Linked DNA regions of Homo sapiens: regions 1 and 2 are each linked to region 3. The links come from fine-mapping of genetic effects on gene expression. A gene starts in region 3. Each other region holds a variant in brackets. All regions are shown on one strand. Distances are between the middles of the regions.

Region 1 (6,965 bases), 29 kb after region 3:
TTGTACTTGCTACTACATGTGTGTACGTATGTGTATGATTTAATTAAATATTATTTAAATGATAAAATATGATGCGGGCCAGCTGCTGTGGCTCAGGCCTATAATCCCAGTACTTGGATAGGCCAAAGTGGGTGGATCACCTGAGGTCAGCAGTTCAAAACCAGCCTGGCCAACATGGTGAAACCCCGTCTCTACCAAAAACACAAAAATTAGTCAGGCATGATCGTATGCACCTGTAAACCCAGCTACTCAGGAGGCTGAGGCAGGAGAATCACTTGAACCTGGGAAGTGGAGGTTGCAGTGAGCTGAGATCATGCTGTGTCCGGAATTGGTTCCTTACGGTGGATTCTTGGTCTCGCTAACTTCAAGAATGAAGCTGCAGACCCTCGTGGTGAGTGTTACAGTTCTTACACGTAGTGTGTCCGGAGTTTGTTCCTTCAGATGTTCAGATATGTCCAGAGTTTCTTCCTTCCGGTGGGCTCGTGGTCTAGCTTGACTTCAGGAGTGAAGCTGCAGACCTTCGCAGTGAGTGTTACAGCTCTTAAATGTGGCGCATCCAGCGTTGTTTGTTCCTCCCGGTGGGTTCGTGGTCTCACTGATTTCAGGAGCAAAGCTGCAGACCTTCGCAGTGAGTGTTACAACTCATAAAGGTAGTGCGGACCCAGAGGGAGCAGCAGCAAGATTTATTGTGAAGAGCAAAAGAACAAACCTTCCACAGCCTGGAAGGGGACCCGAACTGGTTGCTGCTGCTGGCTCCGGTGGCCAGCTTTTATTCCCTTATTTGGCCCTGCCAACGTCCTGCTGATTGGTCCATTTTACAGAGTGCTAATTGGTCCATTTTACAGAGTGCTGATTGGTCCATTTTTACAGAGTGCTGATTGGTGTGTTTACAAACCTTTAGCTAGTCACAGAGCACTGATTGGTGCATTTTTACAGAGTGTTGATTGGTGCATTTACAAACCTTTAGCTAGACACAGAGCGCTGATTGGTGCATATTTAGAGTACTGATTGGTGTGTTTACAAACCTTTAGCTAGACACAGAGTGCTGATTGGTGTGTTTACAATCCTCTAGCTAGACAGAAAAGTTCTCCAAGTTCCCACCCAACCCAGAAGCCCAGCTGGCTTCAATTCTCAATGCCACTGCATTCCAGCCTGGGCTACAGAGTGAGACCCTGCCATAAAAACAAACAAACAAAAACCACACAAATAACATAAAATAAAATATGATGACCCCAACAGAAAGGTGTTTCTAGGCTGGGCACGGTGGCTCATGTCTGTAATCCCAGCACTTTGGGAGGTGGAGGTGGGTGCATCACGAGGTCAGGAGTTTGAGACAAGCCAGGCCAACATGATGAAATCCTGTCTCTACTAAAAATACAAAAATTAGTCAGGTGTGGTGGCATGCACCTGTAATTCCAGCTACTCAGGAAGCTGAAGCAGGAGAATCTTTTGAACCTGGGAGGGAGAGGTTACAGTGAGCTATGATCGCACCATTGCACTCCAGCCTGGGCGACGTAGTGAGACTCTGTCCCAAACAAACAAACAAACAAACAAAAAGGTATTTCTATAAAAATCAAGTTAATTGTTAAAAGACTCATAATGATGTTGCTTTAGAAAAAAAAAATGTTGGCTAGGTAGGGTGGCTCACGCCTGTAATCCCAACACTTTCGGAGGCTGAGGCTGGAGGATCCTGTGAGCCCAGGAGTTTGAGACCAGCCTGGGCAGCATGGCAAGACCCCCTCTCTATGAAAAAATTAAAAATTAGCCAGGCGTGGTGGCACACACCTGTGGTCCTAGCTACTCAGGATCCTGAGGTGGGAGGATCACTTAATCCCACAAGGTCAAGGCTGCAGTGAGCCGTGTTCACACCACTGCACTCCAACCTGGGTAACAGAGCGAGACTCTGTCTCTAAAAAAAATTAATTAATGAAAAATGAAAAATGAAAAAAAATTAAGACAAACTATGGCACCCATATGTCACTTTTTGATGTTTAGCTTTAATCTACTTTTTTGAATTGACATTCTAATTACTGATCCCAGCTGTGTCAGGTAAGAGAGCAACAATCTGTTGACTTCAAAATTATCTTACCTGAACAATAGGAGATATGAACTTACTTAGGGGTTGGAAGATTTATTTTAATTATGACCCCACAGAAAAGATTCAAGACAACAAAACTTTAAGATAAGACTTTCTAATATATTAGGTAACAGAGTAAACTTAAATGAGATATTTGTTTACCTTTATTTTTATTTATTATTATTTATTATTATTTTTTGATGGGGTCTTGCTCTGTCACCCAGGCTGGAGTGCAGCGGCAAGATCTCGGATCACTGCAGCCTCCACCTCCTGGGTTCAAGCAATTCTCCCACCTAAGCTACCTGAGTAGCTGGGATTACAGGGGCACGCCACCACACCTGGCTAATTTTTGTATTTTTAGTAGAGACAGGGTTTCACCATGTTGGGAAGGCTGGTCTTGAACTCTTGACCTCACGTGATCCACCCACCTTGGCCTCCCAAAGTGCTGAGATTACAGGCGTGAGCCACTGCACCCCGGCCTATTTTTATTTTTTAATATTTATTTATTTTTGAGACAGAGTTATGCTCTTGTTGCCCAAGCTGGAGTGCAATGGCGTGATCTCGGCTCACCGCAACCTCTGCCTCCCGGGTTCAAGCAATTCTCCTGCCTCAGCCTCCCGAGTAGCTGGGATTACAGGCATGCGTCACCACACCCAGCTAATTTTGTATTTTTAGTAGAGACAGGGTTTCTCCATGTTGGTCAGGCTGGTCTTGAACTCCCGACCTCAGATGATCCGCCCGCCTTGGCCTTATTTTTATTTTTTTAGAGACGGAGTCTGACTCTGTCACCCAGGCTAGAGGGCCGTGGTGTGATCATAGCTCACCACAGCCTTGAACTCCTGGGTTACAGTGATCCTCCCGCCTTGTTCTCCCAAAATGCTGGTATTACAGGCATGAACCACCATGCCTGGTTGCAGTCTTACCTGTTTTTTTTCAAAAATGTTCTGACTATTCCATCCTATTGTAGCCTCTTCAGAATTCTCTCTCTCCAGGATTTAAGGCGCTATCAAGGTCTGTCAATCCTGAGATGAGTTATGTGAAAGTATTTAAGAAAGGATAGGGCCGGGAGCGGTGGCTCACGCCTGTAATCCCAGCACTTTGGGAGGCCAAGCCGGGTGGACCACGAGGTCAAGAGATC[G/A]AGACCATCCTGACCAACATGGTGAAACCTCGTCTCTACTAAAAATACAAAAACTTAGCCAGGCATGGTGGTGGGCAACTGTAGTCCCAGCTACTCGGGAGGCTGAGGCAGGAGAATCACTTGAAACTGGGAGGTGGAGGTTGCAGTGAGCCGAGATTGTGCCACTGCACTCCAGCCTGGGTGACAGAGCAAGACTCCATCTTAAAAAAAAAAAAATGATAAGGACTAAGGACTATATACATGTAAAAGTATAGTACTTCCTTCTCTTTCTCATTCTGTCTCTCTCTCTCTTTCTCTCTTTCTTTCACAGGATCTTGCTCTGTTGCCCAGGCTGGAGGGCAGTGGTGAGATCATGGCTCACTGCAACCTGGAACTCCTGGGCTCAAGTGATCCTTCTGCCTCCTGCCTCAGCCTCCAGAGTAGCTGGGACTACAGGCTTGCTCCACCACATCTGGCTAATATATACATCTAATATATTATATGTATTATATACATCTAATATATTATATGTATTATATACATCTAATATATTAGATGTATTATATACATCTAATATATGTATTATATACATCTAATATATGTATTATATACATCTAATATATGTATTATATACATCTAATATATGTATTATATACATCTAATATATGTATTATATACATATAATATATGTATTATATACATATAATATATGTATTATATACATATAATATATTATATGAATATATATATAATATATTATATGAATATATAATACATATACTATAGTATATGTATTATATACATATACTATAGTATATGTATTATATATTCATATACTATAGTATATGTATTATATATTCATATACTATAGTATATGTATTATATATTCATATAATATAGTATATGTATTATATATTCATATAATATAGTATATGTATTATATATTCATATAATATAGTATATGTATTATATATTCATATAATATAGTATATGTATTATATATTCATATAATATAGTATATGTATTATATATTCATATAATATAGTATATGTATTATATATTCATATAATATAGTATATGTATTATATATTCATATAATATAGTATATGTATTATATATTCATATAGTATATGTATTATATATTCATATAATACAGTATATGTATTATATATTCATATAATACAGTATATGTATTATATATTCATATAATACAGTATATGTATTATATATTCATATAATACAGTATATGTATTATATATTCATATAATATAGTATATGTATTATATATTTCATATAATATAGTATATGTATTATATATTCATATAATATATATATTATATATTTCATATAATATATATATTATATATTCATATAATATATTATATATATTATATATTTCATATATATATATATTTTTGAGATGGAGTCTTGCTTTGTTGCCCAGGCTGGAGTGCAGTGGTGCCATCTCGGCTCACTGCAACCTCCGCCTCCCGGGTTCAAGCGATTTTTCTGTCTCAGCTTCCCAAGTAGCTGGGATTACAGGTGCACGCCACCACGCCCAGCTAATTTTTGTATTTTTAGTAGAGATGGGGTTCCACCATGTTGGTCAGGCTGGTCTTGAACTCCTGACCTTGTGATCTACCCGCCTCAGCCTCCCAAAGTGCTGGGATTACAGGCGTGAGCCACTGCGCCCGGCCTCTGGCTAATATTTTTAAAACATTTTTTGTAGAGCCAGGTCTTGCTCTGTTGTCCACACTGGTCTCAAGCTCTTGGCTCAAGCGAAACTCCTGCCTTGGCCTCCCATAAATGCAGGAATTACAGATGTGAGCCACTGTGCCCTGCCTTAGTATTTCTTGAGTTGTTATTTAAATGTAAATATTCCCTTGTCTTTAATGCAGCAGAAAATTCCTCAAGAGCCAAAAATACTTTTTAAATTTTTAAAATTTAAAAGTTTTTAAATTGTTTAATTTTAAATTTTAATAAATAAATAAATAAAAATTTAAAAAAATTAAAAATTTTAAAGGGCACTTCATAAATCTCAAACTGCCCTGGTCCTCACAGTCTTTCTAACTTGGCTGAAGATAGCTCTGCTTTTGCTGAGAAAATGTAGATCACTTTCCTCTCTCTCAAAGGATCTGTGGAGTCATCCCTCTCCTCTTACAACCTCTGCTCCCTCTCCTCACATTGTACACTCAGATTTCAAAATCTTGGAGGACGCACCTCCCTCATCCTTCTCGGGGTTAGCTTTATGTTCTCCGAGTGCACCTCCCAAGGGGCAGCCCACTGATTCCAAATTGGAAGTGCTTTCCTTGGTTCTTATGAACCAATGCAGCAGTTTTTTCTTTTCTGTAAGTAAATTTTTATATTGCACTAAGGACTCCTAGTAACTTTCTTCAGGAGTTACTAAGGATAACATGTCTTTGCTATCCAACACCTAGGGTATTAGGCCGGCTGTGGTGGCTCATGCCTGCAATCCCAGCACTTTGGGAGGCCAAGCTGGGAAGATCACTTGAGCCCAGGAGTTCAAGACCAGCCTGGACAACATAGTAAGACCCCGTTTCTAAGACAAAAACAAAAACTAAAACCCTGGGGTATTAGCACTTAAGTTGACAGAGGAATTGATTTGGCATTGTACTGAAAAGTTGAGCTGGCCGGGTGTGGTGGCTCATGCCTGAAATCCTAGCACTTTGGGAGGCCGAGGTGGGCAGATCACTTGAGGTCAGAAGTTCAAGACCAGCCTGACCAACATGGTGAAACCCTGTCTCTACTAAAAATACAAAAATTAGCCGGGTGTGGTGGCGGGCGCCTGGAATCCCAGCTACTCGGGAGGCTGAGGCAGGAGAATTGCTTGAACCTAGGAGGTGGAGGTTACAGTGAGCTGAGATCATGCCACTGCACTCCAGTCTGGGCAACAGAGTGAGACACCGTCTCAAAAAAAGGAAAGAAAAGTTGAAAAGTTGAATTGCTGGTAACTATGTGAAGCTCCCACTATGCAAATACCTACATCCTTGGGATTCCTCAATTTTCTAGTTAGATAGGTATGTTATCAGTACTTTATGTGTTGACTCAGACAGCTCGTTAGGTATTAGCTTGGCTTAGTCTTTCCTTTAAAATGTCAATTATTAGTTTAGCTTCATTATTATCAATTTGGTGTTTCCTTTAGCCAACTGTATAATTTTTGTGATGCTCATTTGCATGAGCATTTTTTTTTTGACACGGAGTCTCGCTCTGTTGCCCAGTCTGGAGTACAATAGCATGATCTCGGCTCACTGCAACCTCCGCCTCCCAGGTTTAAGCGATTCTCCCGCCTCAGCCTCCTGAGTAGCTGGGATTACAGGTGCGTGCCACCACGCCCAGTTAATTTTTGTATTTTTATAGAGATGGGGTTTCTCCATGTTGGTCAGGCTGGTCTCAAACTCCTGACCTCAGGTGATCCACCTGCCTCGGCTTCCAAAGTGCTGGGATTATAGGCGTGAGCATCAGGCCCAGCCAAGTAGGCTTTCTAGGCCATAATTTTCAAGGAATTCGACTTCAAGATGTGTTAGTTTGTTATTCTTTTTTTTTTTTTTTTTGAGACGGACTCTTGCTCTGTCTCCCAGACTGGAGTTCAGTGATGTGATCTCAGCTCACTGCAACCTCTGCCTCCTGGGTTCAAGAGATTCTCCTTCCTCAGCCTCCTGAGTAGCTAGAATGACAGGCGCCCACCACCAGGCTGGTCTCGAACTCCTGACCTCAGGTGGTCGGCCCGCCTCGGCCTCCCAAAATGTTGGG
Region 2 (6,965 bases), 23 kb before region 3:
GATATCCAGAAAAAGGAAGGGGGAAAAAAAGCCCTAAGAAGGGCAGAGAAACCACTGTGTTGAGCCAACAGGGACAGGGAATTATAAAACTCTAAATTTTCTCACAGATTATACAAAAGGGATAAAACTTGTTTTAAACACTGAAGGCACAGCTTTTGACTACCCTCTGCTCTGAGAGGTGGGAGGGCAGGAGGCGTGTTATAATCCTGAAGATGCTAAAAATCCAAGAAGGAAGTCAGTAAGATTTAGTAACATAATAAAATTCTAGACCGACCCCAATCTGTAGGGAGGGATTAAACTAATATTGAGTAGCTAATTGTTACTGTAGTACTTTTTTGTTTTGCTTTTTTGAGACAGGGTCTCACTCTGTCACCCAGGCTGGAGTGCAGTGGCGAGATCATGCCTCACTGCAGCCTTGACCTCCCAGGCTCCAGCAATCCTCCCACTTCAGCTTCCCAAGCAGCTGGGACTACAGGCACCTGTGCCCACGTCCGGCTAATTTTTTAAATTTTTTGTAGAGATAGGGTCTTGCCTTCTTGCCCCAGATGGTCTTAAACTCCTGGGCTCAAGTGATCCTCCTTGGCCTCGCAAGTACTGGGATTACAGACATGAGTTTTTCTTTTCCCCCCGAATCAGCCATTATTAGCTATATGGGGAGTAACCTGTCTCAGCTCTTTGCAATCAATCAAACCCAAATTTTAATTCTCCTTTAGTGCAAGTAGTTAATTCTAGATTCTCATCCACTATTTTAAGTAGAGATTGTTTTGATATTAATTTCTCATGACCAAAAGGAAGAAAACTCCCTAATCTACTCCACTGTGAACAGTTTAGATGCAGGATGACACAATTCCACAGCGATGGCCACATTATCAGGGTGAAACTAATCAGGCAGAAATGAGAGTAACAGGCTACATCTGCCTGTTCCATCAATTAAGGAAATAATGAGAACGTGGTATTGAATTCCGCGACATGAACTTGGGCAGGTGAGGGGAGAATAGAAAGAAAGGCAAAATATCTGTGGTTAAACCACCTCCAAATAATTTATTTTAAATAGGCTTTCTGAGGCATTTCAGTTCAAAAAACTGAAGGGCAGAGGAAAAGAAATGAGGAATTTGCCTCTGGTTAAGAATCACATAAAACATTAGTTTGGGCAAAATCATATATCTGCTATTCAACAGACAATTCTTTTACATACAATGAAAATACTTGTTACTAGAGAGAAACAATGAAGTCCACATGCAACAACCCACAGGCTATCAAATTTCCAGAGGTTCAAGGAGGAATTTTATTAAAATAATACCTTCTTAAAAGCTAAGTAGTTCTTTCACCTTAATCATCATCACCTCCATAAGTTACAACAGCTATCTTTTGCCAAATTATCAAAAGCAACTAGAACTGATTAAACCTTCATGACAGTAAAATCAGATGAGAGGCCAAAGTTCACTGGGACTCTAATATTACTGGCATTGGTCTCCCTTGAGTCGGGTTTGTTGTTTTTAAGCCTCTTGAAACCTTAAGTAAACAAATCTAACTGCCAACGAAAACTAACACACCCAGAAACTCTCAGCGAAACATTTACTTCATAGCTCATAATATAGACCTGTCCTATTCCAGCTACAAGTGGCCTTGCCTGGAGGTAAATGTCGAAAGAAAACACTTCCTAACACCTTCACACTTTAAAGTGAGGGAAAAAAAAAACAGGGCTTCAAGTCAAGGGCAGGGACATAAGAACTATCGTCTCAGTGGTGAATACATACCACAGCCTTCCTGGCTTTCCTAAGACTGCTTCATTTTTGCTCCTTAATTAACCAGAAAAAAATTTCATCTATCTTCCTAGATTTCCTTAAAAATCAGACTTACAGAATGTTAGAGCTAAGCCTTCAAGATATTGTCTTGCCTATAATCCCAGCACTTTGGGAGGCCAAGGCAGGCAGATCACTTGAGGTCAGGAGTTCGAGACCAGCCTGGCCAACGTGGTGAAACCCCATCTCTCCTAAAAATACAAAAAAATTAGTCAGGCATGGTGGTATGCACCTATAGTCCTAGCTACTCGGGAGGCCAAGGCAGGAGAATCTCTTGAACCCGGGAGGCGGAGGTTGCAGTGAGCCAATATTGCACCACTGTACTCCAGCCTGAACGACAGAGCCAGAAGCCGTCTCAAAAAAAAAAAAAATATATATATATATATATATTAATGTCTTTACCCCAGACCTGACTAGCAGCAGCCAGCATCCATCTTTAGCCACCCCACTCCCAGTGGCCAAAATAAACCTTCCTGGGAACCTGTGGCCATACCTTCATGACAATAAATCAATCTGCTCAAAGAACCCTGTGATGTCAGTTTCTGAGGTAGCTTCTAACAGGACCCTAACAGGATTTCTTAGAAAAAGTTTCACTCCAAACATCTTTTCATTTTTATTTTTTTCCGAGACAGGGTCTCACTCTGCCATCCAGGCAAGAGTGCCAGTGGCAGAATAACAGCTCACTGCAGCTTCAACCTCCCATGCTCCAGTGATTCTATCACCTCAGCCTCCTGAGTAGCTGGGACTACAGGCATACATCATCATGCCCAGCTAATTTTTTTTTTATTTTTTGTAGAGACAGGGTCCCATTATGTTGCCTAGGTTGTTCTCAAACTCCTGGACTCAAGTGATCCTTCCACCTTGGCCTCCCTAAGTGCTGGGATTCCAAGTGTGAGCCACCACACCTGGCCTCTAAAAAGCTCTAAAAACAGTTTACTAACACTCATTTGGGAGGCATCTTTAAAGAGGAACTTTCCAGGCTTTCAGCAAATCACATCATATAGGAAGCTTGGTAAGATTAATAGTATATATTTTTAAAAGGAAATTTTTCTAATCTGTCTTTGCCTCACTGAAGTATTTCATAATGTTAACTCAGAATTAGTCACTGTGGTTTGTCATGCTGTTATCTATGTCAAAAGTTTTGCCCTCTCCCTCTCCCCCCTCTCCCTCTCCCCACGGTCTCCCTCTCCCTCTCTTTCCACGGTCTCCCACTGATGCCGAGCCGAAGCTGGACTGTACTGCTGCCATCTCGGCTCACTGCAGCCTCCCTGCCTGATTCTCCTGCCTCAGCCTGCCGAGTGCCTGCGATTGCAGGCGCGCGCCACCACGCCTGACTGGTTTTCT[T/A]ATTTTTTTGGTGGAGACGGGGTTTCGCTGTGTTGGCCGGGCTGGTCTCCAGCTCCGAACTGCGACTGATCCGCCAGCCTCGGCCTCCCAAGGTGCCGGGATTGCAGACGGAGTCTGGTTCACTCAGTGCTCAATGGTGCCCAGGCTGGAGTGCAGTGGCGTGATCTCGGCTCGCTACAACCTCCACCTCCCAGCCGCCTGCCTTGGCCTCCCAAAGTGCCAAGATTGCAGCCTCTGCCCGGCCGCCACCCCGTCTGGGAAGTGAGGAGCGTCTCTGCCTGGCCGCCCATCGTCTGGGACGTGAGGAGCCCCTCTGCCTGGCTACCCAGTCTGGAAAGTGAGGAGCGTCTCTGCCCGGCCGCCATCCCATCTAGGAAGTGAGGAGCGCCTCTTCCCGGCCCCCATGCCATCTAGGAAGTGAGGAGCGTCTCTGCCCGGCCGCCCATCGTCTAAGATGTGGGGAGCGCCTCTGCCCCGCCACCCCGTCTGGGATGTGAGGAGCGCCTCTACCCAGCCGCGACCCCGTCTGGGAGGTGAGGAGCGTCTCTGCCCAGCCGCCCCGTCTGAGAAGTGAGGAGACCCTCCGCCTGGCAACCGCCCCATATGAGAAGTGAGGAGCCCCTCCGCCCGGCAGCCACTCTGTCTGGGAAGTGAGGAGCGTCTCTGCCCGGCAGCTACCCCATCCGGGAGGGAGGTGGGGGGGTCAGCCCCCCGCCCGGCCAGCCGCCCCGTCCGGGAGGGAGGTGGGGGGGTCAGCCCCCCGCCCGGCCAGCCGCCCCGTCCGGGAGGGAGGTGGGGGGGGGTCAGCCCCCCGCCCGGCCAGCCGCCCCGTCCGGGAGGTGAGGGGCGCCTCTGCCCGGCCGCCCCTACTGGGAAGTGAGGAGCCCCTCTGCCCGGCCAGCCGCCCCGTCTGGGAGGGAGGTAGGGGGGTCAGCCCCCTGCCCGGCCAGCCGCCCTGTCTGGGAGGTGAGGGGCCCCTCTGCCCGGCCGCCCCTACTGGGAAGTGAGGAGCCCCTCTGCCCGGCCAGCCGCCCCATCCGGGAAGGAGGTGGGGGGGTCAGCCCCCCGCCCGGCCAGCCGCCCCATCCGGGAGGTTAGGGGCGCCTCTGCCCGGCCGCCCCTACTGGGAAGTGAGGAGCCCCTCTGCCCGGCCAGCCGCCCCGTCCGGGAGGGAGGTGGGGGGGTCAGCCCCCCGCCCGGCCAGCCGCCCGGTCCAGGAGGTGAGGGGCGCCTCTGCCCGGCCGCCCCTACTGGGAAGTGAGGAGCCCCTCTGCCCAGCCACCACCCCGTCTGGGAGGTGTACCCAACAGCTCATTGAGAAAGGGCCATGATGACAATGGCGGTTTTGTGGAATAGAAAGGGGGGAAAGGCGGGGAAAGGATTGAGAAATCGGATGGTTGCCATGTCTGTGTAGAAAGTGGTAGACACGGGAGACTTTTCATTTTGTTCTGTACTAAGAAAAATTCTTCTGCCTTGTGATCCTGTTGATCGGTGACCCTACCCCCAACCCTGTGCTCTCTGAAACATGTGCTGTGTCCACTCAGGGTTAAATGGATTAAGAGTGGTGCAAGATGTGCTTTGTTAAACAGATGCTTGAAGGCAGTATGCTCGTTAAGAGTCATCACCACTCCCTAATCTCAAGTACCCAGGGACACAAACACTGCAGAAGGCCGCAGGGTCCTCTGCATAGGAAAACCAGAGACCTTTGTTCACTTGTTTATCTGCTGACCCTCCCTCCACTATTGTCCTATGACCCTGCCAAATCCCCCTCTGTGAGAAACACCCAAGAATGATCAATAAAAAAAAAAAAAAGTTTAAAAGGCCTGCCACCTGCTATTCCAAAAACACTCTTGCCAATCTTGACCCACGAGAGCACCTTTGGCAATGGTTTCTGTTTATCTCCAAAATGATAAGCAGAAAAATAAAAGGGAGTAGAGGGAAGAAGTAGTTTTTGTTTTGCAAAGGCCAAGTTCTTTCTGCATGATTTTTTTAGAAGCCATTTCTTTTCAAAACCAAGATTCACTCCTTGAAAATGGAAATCTGATTTTCACCTTTTAGTAAAACCATTTCCACTTAGCCCATCCTCTTAAAATTCTGAGTAAAAACCAATGCAACAACCTTTGCAACATATACAAACATTAATTCTAAGAATAAAGTTTAACAAAGCACTAAAAATTCAGACACAAATTTGGGGCTTTAATAAAAGATGTAAAGTTATTTTTTAACACTTACCCACTCCTCGACATTGGGGGGCTGCTCATCATAAATGTGTTCCTTGTCCCACAAAATATTGGACTTGTCATACCTGTCCATCTTTCTTCGAGTTTTCACAGCAAAGAAAATTATTAAAGCAAAAGCCACAATAATCATGAACCCCAGTACAATGGCAATGGCCTAAAAAGGAGTGGAAAATATTGGCATAATTAGATTTTAATTGCTTAATCACAATTCACCCTCTACATATTATTAAAACCCTTATCTACCCTAAGGCCCTACTAAATCCATGTGGTTTAATTGATAGAAAACTGAAGCAAATAGTTACATTTCAGACATATCATAAAACCTAACCCACACTAACTGGGCTAAGGCCAGCAAATGTACACACACGTACATACTGCTTGACTCAATCCTCAGAAAATGCCTAATGTTAGGAACTATCAATCATCACCCTCATTTCAGAGCTGTAAAAAACTAGTTCCAAAGCTTGTACACCTACGGGCCAAGCTTTGTGCACCTACGAGAATGGCCAGTAAAGTAACTCAATCATTGGTATACTTCTAAAGGGCCTGAAAAATGCTACTCTCAAAAGTATTCACAGCTTTGAAATAGCCAATCATGCTTGTAATCTTGTTCAAAACATATGCTTGGCAAGCCTTTTTACACTGAATGTAAATTTCTGTCCATAGATCTCTATCTTACCAAAAATGATGAAGACATGGATCTAATCAAGCTATAAATAGCAAATTGACTAATGATTGATTTGGTCTGGCAGGTTTCTCTGTTTCAGGAGTCTTGCATACTACTAGAAAGGGCCCTGTAACAAAGAAACTTCCTACTCTTAACAGTTCTCCCAGTGGTGATAGGATATTAAATGGTATATTGGCCTGGGAGGCACTTGAAGTTGAGGGAAATATCAGGCCTCTACCCTGGATGTCTGCTAATGGGAACAAGAGGCTCTCCTTCCAGCTGTCTTGACAGTGACATCATTTTTCAAAGAGTAAGTAGTAAGAGAACTAAGAGGGATAGGGGTGTGGTAGGATAGGAGTACCAACCCTCAGTCCCTATCTACCATGGACATGTCTAAATGGCAACAACGAGCACTGTGAAAACCTACGTCTGCAGGGAAAACCTTCAGTCTTCTAAATAATGGTAGACAGATACTAGAGGTCTAACTCCAAAGGAGTGACTCATTCAGGAATGGGAACTCCTGAGTTAGTGTAAGAAAAAAGGAAAAACAAGGGAAAAAAGATCAGTAACTCAGAAACATTTCAGATATTAATATAATCAGTATGACTCATGGTTACTAAAGTAGGTTTCTCAACTCCAACCTGCACATTTGAATCACTTGCTTAGCTTTTAAACATACTAACTTACACTCTGAAAACTATAAAACACTATTAAAAGAAGTTTAACAAGACCTACATAAATCAAAAGAATCTTACGTTCATGAATCAGAAGACTTGTAATTGTAAAGATGACAATACATCCAAAATTGACCTACAGATTCAATATAACCCTTCAAAATCCTAGCTGGCATTTTTTTCCAAAATTGACATGCTGATCTTAAAATCCATATGGAAATGCAAGGAATCCAGAATC
Region 3 (6,828 bases):
TGCAGTAAGCCAAGATCGTGCCACTGCACTCCAGCCTGGGAGACAGCGAGACTCTGTCTCAAAAAAAAAAAAAAAAGTTTAAGTTGTGCCTTATATTAAATGATTTAGACTACAGGCACATCATTAGTAAATTGTCTAAAAATTTGAAGTTAGGCAGATTTTGTAATAGACTCTGTGTCAGAAATTGTATTTTTAATAAATCTTCCAGGTGATTTTTAAACACATCACATATTTTGAGAATTGCTGTCTACAATAAAGGTGTCAATCCAAAAAGGACATTGATCTTGCAATTTCCTGTCTAGAAAGCCCAGATCTTTTACACAACAGACACCTGCTGTTCAGGTCTCAGCTCAGACGTCACCTTCTGGGAGATGCCCTCCCTGTCCCTCACTCCATCACACAAAACTTGTTTTTTTTTTCAGAGCAAACTCCCCTCTGCCCTCATACCTAAAATATAGGTATCATCTCCACCGCATCTGGAATGCCCATATCCCAGACATCAAATGTCTATTTTGACCATCATTTATATCCCTGGTCGCTGGAACTAGCCCTGGCACAAAGTGATTGTCAATGAGTACTCAATTAATAAAACCAACAGTCAATTATTAGAGTTGGGATTTCAATCCAGCAGTGAATGCCTTGAAGTTCTTCACACAACACTCAATAAACGTTATTTTTTCCAACTTCAGTTTGTCAAATGTAATTAAGTGCGTAGAGTCTAAGAGAAAGGGAGAAAAAGAAGACAGAACAGTCTGAGAATCACCTGTGAGCCTGTTAGAAAGGCAGAATCCCAGGCCCCACTCCTGACCTCCCAATCAGAATCTGTGTTTTAATAGGATCCCTAAGTGATTCATACCACAGCCAAGACTGGAATCACTGGGTTACGGAACAGCGGCAAGCCTAGGGGTTAAAACAAAAAGCCTAACATAAATCTGCATGGTCTGTTTACTCTCTTATTTCCATAAATAGTAATTTGATGAAAAAGATCCATTAATATTCCAATCAAATAAGCCTTAAAATGCAACTGAAGAAAACTTCCTTCTGGGAGGTTCCTAGGAAGATGAAAGATATTACATCAGATCATTTATGTGGTTAAAAGTAATATACTATTTTGAAAAGGTAGTAATTCCAACACTACCTTTAGAAGAAAACAAGAATTTTACCTTGATATCAAGCAAAATGCGGGAAATCTTGTATCAGGCTACAGTTACTAGTCAATGGTAGAAAAGTCCAGAAAAATTCCCCAAATCTGGTTCTGGAATATCAAGGACCGCTGCTTCTGATACTCCTTCCCATATTAGCTGAAGCAGTTTGCAAGCAAGCCCACCTGCAACGTTTCCCCCACGGCATTTGCCCACTTTTAAAATGGAGTTCTACTAAGGCCTGCCTTTTAGAGTTGTTGGGATAATTAAATGAGAAAATACAGAATGCTTTTACCACAGTGCCTCACGTGCAGGAGGCACTGCTGCCCACTATTTCCCGAAATGGCCTGGAAACTGCCAAAAGGTGGAGAATCATGTCTTACCGATCTCCCTATCCTCTGCTCCGTCACCTAACAAAGGAGGCCCCTAATAACTAAATAAATTGCAAAACGACCAAAAAAAAAGTGTTGCTTTGTTTGAGGAAATATCTCTGCCTCCCACACACACTTAAGATGTCTATTTTAAAGCACCACTAAGAAAATATTCATAAAGGCTGGGTGTGGTGGCTTACGCCTGTAATCCCAGCACTTTGGGAGGCCAAGGCGGGCGAATCACCTGAGGTCAGGAGTTCGAGACCAGCCTGACCAAATGGCAAAACCCTGTCTCTACTAAAAATACAAAAATTAGCTGTGCATACTAGTGGGTGCCTGTAATCCCAGCTATTCGGGAGGCTGAGCAGGAGAATCGCTTGAACCCGGGAGGCAGAGGTTGCAGTGAGCCCAGATGATGCCACTGCACTGGGGGACAGAGCCAGACTCCGTCTCGGAAAAACACACACACACACACACACAAGCACCTCATATGTACAGTGCAAAAGAACTACTGTTACTATTGTTACACTTGGGAACGCCTAGTTTTCTATCACACCAAGAATCACCAAAAAACACCATAAGTGCCTTCATGGGAAACGTTTCTCTTTTCCAGGTATCCCAATAATACACCTGTTGCCTAAGGGCCACACACTGACTGGCCTGGAAAGCCGCCGCCTCCTCCTCGAGCAGGGTAATTCCCCAAGCGGGCAGTGTGGCCAGCGAGCCCCGGGTCCGGCCTAAGGATGCCGCGGCTTTTCCCTCGGGCCCGGTGGCTTCCCGAGGAGCGCGAGGGGCTCGGCGCCGCTCCCAACCCCTAGGCGCAGAGGCCATCTTGGCCCTCGACCCCTGCTCCCCGCACGCTTCCTCCGACGCAGGCAACATGGCTGGCGCGCGGGGCCGGCCCAGTCCCGGAGGTCCCCAAACTCCGTGGCCCGGCTGGGCGCGGGTCCCGGCTTCCGTGCGCACCGAGGCGCTCCCAGGCAGCGCGCGCCCACGTTCGCCGGGCAGGCACCGCCCGGAGGCAGTTCCGCCCCCCTGGGGGCAGCCCTTTTGGTCACGGATGAGAATCCGAAGCGTGAGCAGCTTCCCTCGAAGTCCAGCCTCACTCGAAATTAACTCCCCGCCCCCCAGCTTAAATCGACGCGGGTTCACACAACTCGCAACAAGTGGATTCGAAGTAGCCAGTGTGGCCCACACCGTGACTCCTGGAATATTTCACAGATTGAATCCAGCCCCCGTCTCCCCGGGATATCCAAAGGGGTGGGGTGGGAGCGGAAGGAATGAAATTCCCCCCGGGATCTAAGCCGCCCGGGCCGCCGAACAGCCGCCTCGCTGCAGCCTCAGGCTTAGGACCCCCAAGGAGCTGGGCGCAGGATCCCTCTCCATGAAGGCCGCCCCCCCAAACTGCAGCCCCAGAGCGGATGCAGGATCGTCGCTGTTCAGGAATGTCGTGCCCCATAAAAGTGAAAAGTTGCCCGCGCCGCTGAGGCACTGCTAGCTTTCAGCGTTTCCGCGGAATAAAGCTTGATCGGCGGCTCCAAGCCACCCCTCGCCCCAGGAGGCAGCCTCCCAAGTTGGCCGGTGCTGCTCTCTCCGCAGACCCGCGCCTCTCTGGTTCCCACGAGTCCCAGCTCGGGGACGAAACTGCCACCGAAACCAGCGCGGAGCGTCCTCCCCCCGGCACCTCCCCTAACATAGTCGCCGCGGTCCCCCCACGGGGACCCTCGGGCTCCCGTGCGCCCCTGACGCCGCGCCCAACACTCACCCGCTCGCCGCAACTGGGCCCGACCCTCCGGGGGCCAACGGTGCCAGGGAGCGCGCTCACCTGGCGGGCGCACCTGACGCCGCACCGACCGCCAGCGCTCAGCCGGGGACTGGGCTGGGGACGTCTCCTCCCCCTTCTCCCTCTCCTTTCCCTCCTCCCTACAACCGGCCCTGCCCCCGGGCATGCGCACCAACGTGGAAGGGGGTGCGGGAAGCCTGCGGGCCAGCGCCGCGAGTCCCACCTGCTGCGTCCTAGACCGGCTCCTCGGCGCTCTGGACCTGGCTCTCGGTTCCTGCCGCCTCCGCCAGAGGAAGCAGGGAGGGAGAGGTGGACGCGGGAGTGTAGGTGTGGTGTGTCGGCCTCCTCCCTCGGTGACCAATTCACCTGAAACTCGGATGGGAGGGGGCGGGAGGACGCGGTCCTGCTTCCCACACCCTGCCAGCGCGCTGTTAAAGGAACCGCGCGACGTTGCGGCCCGAGAGGCGGGGCGCAGAGGAGAGGCGCGGGCTCCTAGGGGGCAGCACGGATGGGGGTCCCTGACCACCCCGGGGTGCGTTCGGTGCTCCGCCTGCTTCGGATGGAACCTTGGGGTGTCTGATGGAGAGAGGCCGAACGAGGTCCAGAGGGGACTGTTTCCTCCGGAAAGAGGGTCCAGGCACTCAGCACTTTGATAGGAAAGGCACGTCCTCACAGGACACTTTTCTGCTTCCAGAATTTGATTAAACTGTTGCTGGAAAAAGGCATCTAGATGTATTGCTCCAACGAAAGACTCCTGGGAAAATTTCAAAAGTCGTGTGTAAACATTGGCGCTGTTTCTGAATCTCTAGATTCAGAATAAGAGACAATTACTTAGAGGGGTTAAAATGAGGGTGAACTACTGTAGGTGTTAGTTGCCATCCAGCAGGCTAAAGTGCATAATACAGTTTACACATCACCACCCCAGGGTCCTCTCCTGCCCACCCGGTCCGCTCTTGAGGACCGGGAAATTTAAACTATTATGGCTCTTTGGCCTGAGAAAAAGCACCTTATACGTTGTTTACCAACCTGTAGTGCTTTAAGAACAACACTACTTAAAAAGCAAAATAAACTTGGTTTACTTTTTTTTTTTTTTTAAGAAAACGAAAAAGCACCTTAGTTCCGGGTGCTGTATTCTATTTCTTGATCTGGATTCTGTTTCCAAGGGAAATTTCATAGTCTGCACTTAACACTGTGTATATTTTTATGTATGTTGGTTGTTTTTCAACATATTTTTTAATTGTACTCCAGGATGTGGCAATTATAGTTCTTGGCATTTAACTATCTGCATTGAAAGCGAACTTTTAGGTTTCTTACATCCTGCTTGTCTTTGTGTTCCAATCTGGAATGTCAGCATTGCTAATAAATTTCTATCCAATCCCACCCACTTCTCTACCTTTAATTAAATGGTTAGAGATGTGACTCTCCCATACATTAGATCTTAAGGCACAATTCATACTTGAGGAAGTAAAAGCACTATATAAATATGAGGTATTTCAGATGATGGCAGCTTTAATGGGTAATTAATTTAATTGGTATTTTTTTCGTGGAAGTCATTGCTACAAATGCTTTAATATGACTATGTAGTTTTTGAATGATGCAGTTTAAATTGGTATTGTTAACACTGGGGAAGTCAGGTTAATCCCCTTAATGTTCCCTGTCAGATTACTGAAATCTCCAAACATTCCATTTGGTTTATAATTAAACAAGGGAACATTTCCTAATACTCTCAGATTTGTAAACACATGTCTATTATTTTATAATGTATTTTGACATGTTCTGAAGAGATCTTAGGAGTTTTTTTCCACTTTATAAAAGAGAGTTCACATACCATAAAATTCACCCTTTTAAAGGGCACGTACAATTCAGTGGGTTTTAGTATACTCACCAGATTGTACAACCATCACCACCATCTAATTCCATTTTAATCGCCCCCAAAAGAAACCCCATGCCCATTAATAGTCACTCCCCATTTCCCCTCTCCCCTCATCCCTCGGCAACCACTAATGTACTTTCTGTCTCTATTAATTTGCCTATTCTGGACATTTTATATGAATGGATAATACAATATGTGCCCTTTGTGTCTGTCTTCTTTCACTTAGCATAATATTTTAAAGGTTCATCCATGATGTAGTATGTATTGGTACTTCATTCCTTTTTATAACTGAATAATATTCCATTGTATCGATGTATCACATTTCGTTTAATCATTCATCTGTTGATGAACATTTGGGTTGTTTCTCCTTTGGGGATGTTATGAATAATGTTACTATGAACATTTGTGTACAAGTTTTTGTGTGGACATATGTTTTCGGTTCTCTTGGTAAATTAGGTTTTTAAATTAAACTTTTTATCATTTTAAGATAACTTATGCATATCATGTTATTTTTCTTATTCCCACCCTAAACCTAAACTCAAAGACATGTTGTGTTGGGTAGAAGGCTTTCATATTCTATTTGCTTTCCCAATTCATTCCTTCAACTATTTTCTGAGTGCCTAATCTGTACACACACGAGTGAACAAAACTCAAAAATCTCTGTGAAACTTACTTTCTAGTTAGTTCTGAGTTCATCCATATGGAATAATAGGATTCATTAATTGTATGAATTCTATTTTATTCGCTTGAGATTAATTTTCTAAACAACAACATCAAAAGAACGGTTAACTATTGTCCAATATTGTGTATATTTCATAGTTGAAAGTGTCTAGAAAGAAAATCCAGCCTTAAAACTTAAACACATCATTCTTCAATACCAAAACAAAATTTGTTGGATGTTAAATGATGCCATGCTCAATTTAATCATGTTACATAATCATAAATTATAGCAAAATTTAATTACTATATTTTTTACCAAATATTCCTTCTTGGCAACTCACAGTAGTATTGAGTAGTATCCACTATTGAATATTATTTGATGAAAATCCCCGTGACTCAGAGCAATGTAAATATTATTTTCAGAACCCCATGATTAGAAACTTGTTGACTTTACCTGCAGTCAAATGGATAAGATGAAAAGACAATTTGTTTCTCCTTTTCTATGTGTAAAAGAGAAACTTAAGAGCTCAGATTATGGTGTCAGAAATCTCAGTTCAAATTCCAGTGTTGCTACTTGGTAGCTGGGTAGGACTAAAGGAAATTAAACTATGTAAGGTTCATTTTTTTCCACCGTAAATTTGAGATGATAATAAACAATACTGTCTTTATAAGTCTGTTGGTGGGAATGTGGAGCATTCACCAAGACAGACTATATGCTGAGCCACGAAACAAGTCTCAATAAATTGAGCAAGCCATTGCTGTATCCTATATGCCTGAAATAGTTCCTGTCACATAGGAATTACATAACTATGTGTTGGATGAATGAATGAATGACTATAGCCCTGCTTCCCAAATCCAACATGCCTGTGGAGTCTTGTCCTCCTCTCAGATGGCCTCCTGCTATTGTGAAACCCGCACGTTCCTTAGTAGCATTTCAAGGCTTACATCTCTAGTACTAGGGTTTAGAGGAGAAAAGACGGGAGATTAACATAGTTCCAC

Evidence for each region. PIP is the estimated chance that this variant, and not a neighbour inherited with it, causes the effect.
Region 1: its variant is fine-mapped to the expression of OCLN in whole blood (TOPMed, PIP above 0.99).
Region 2: its variant is fine-mapped to the expression of OCLN in whole blood (TOPMed, PIP above 0.99).

What each region holds. Positions count from the first base shown.
Region 1 is chr5:69,460,563-69,467,527 of GRCh38, reverse strand. No RefSeq gene overlaps it. Among named protein-coding and RNA genes, the nearest start is that of OCLN, 29 kb to the left of the region's middle. RefSeq lists a silencer at 4,780-4,948. The variant G/A (reference allele first, on the strand shown) is at 3,216.
Region 2 is chr5:69,512,523-69,519,487 of GRCh38, reverse strand. It overlaps OCLN (occludin), which reads right to left. Exons shown (of 9, transcript NM_001205254.2): 4 at 5,379-5,540. Among named protein-coding and RNA genes, the nearest start is that of OCLN, 23 kb to the right of the region's middle. RefSeq lists an enhancer at 1,496-2,377. The variant T/A (reference allele first, on the strand shown) is at 3,147.
Region 3 is chr5:69,489,351-69,496,178 of GRCh38, reverse strand. OCLN (occludin) reads right to left here and starts at 3,389. Exons shown (of 9, transcript NM_001205254.2): 1 at 3,279-3,389.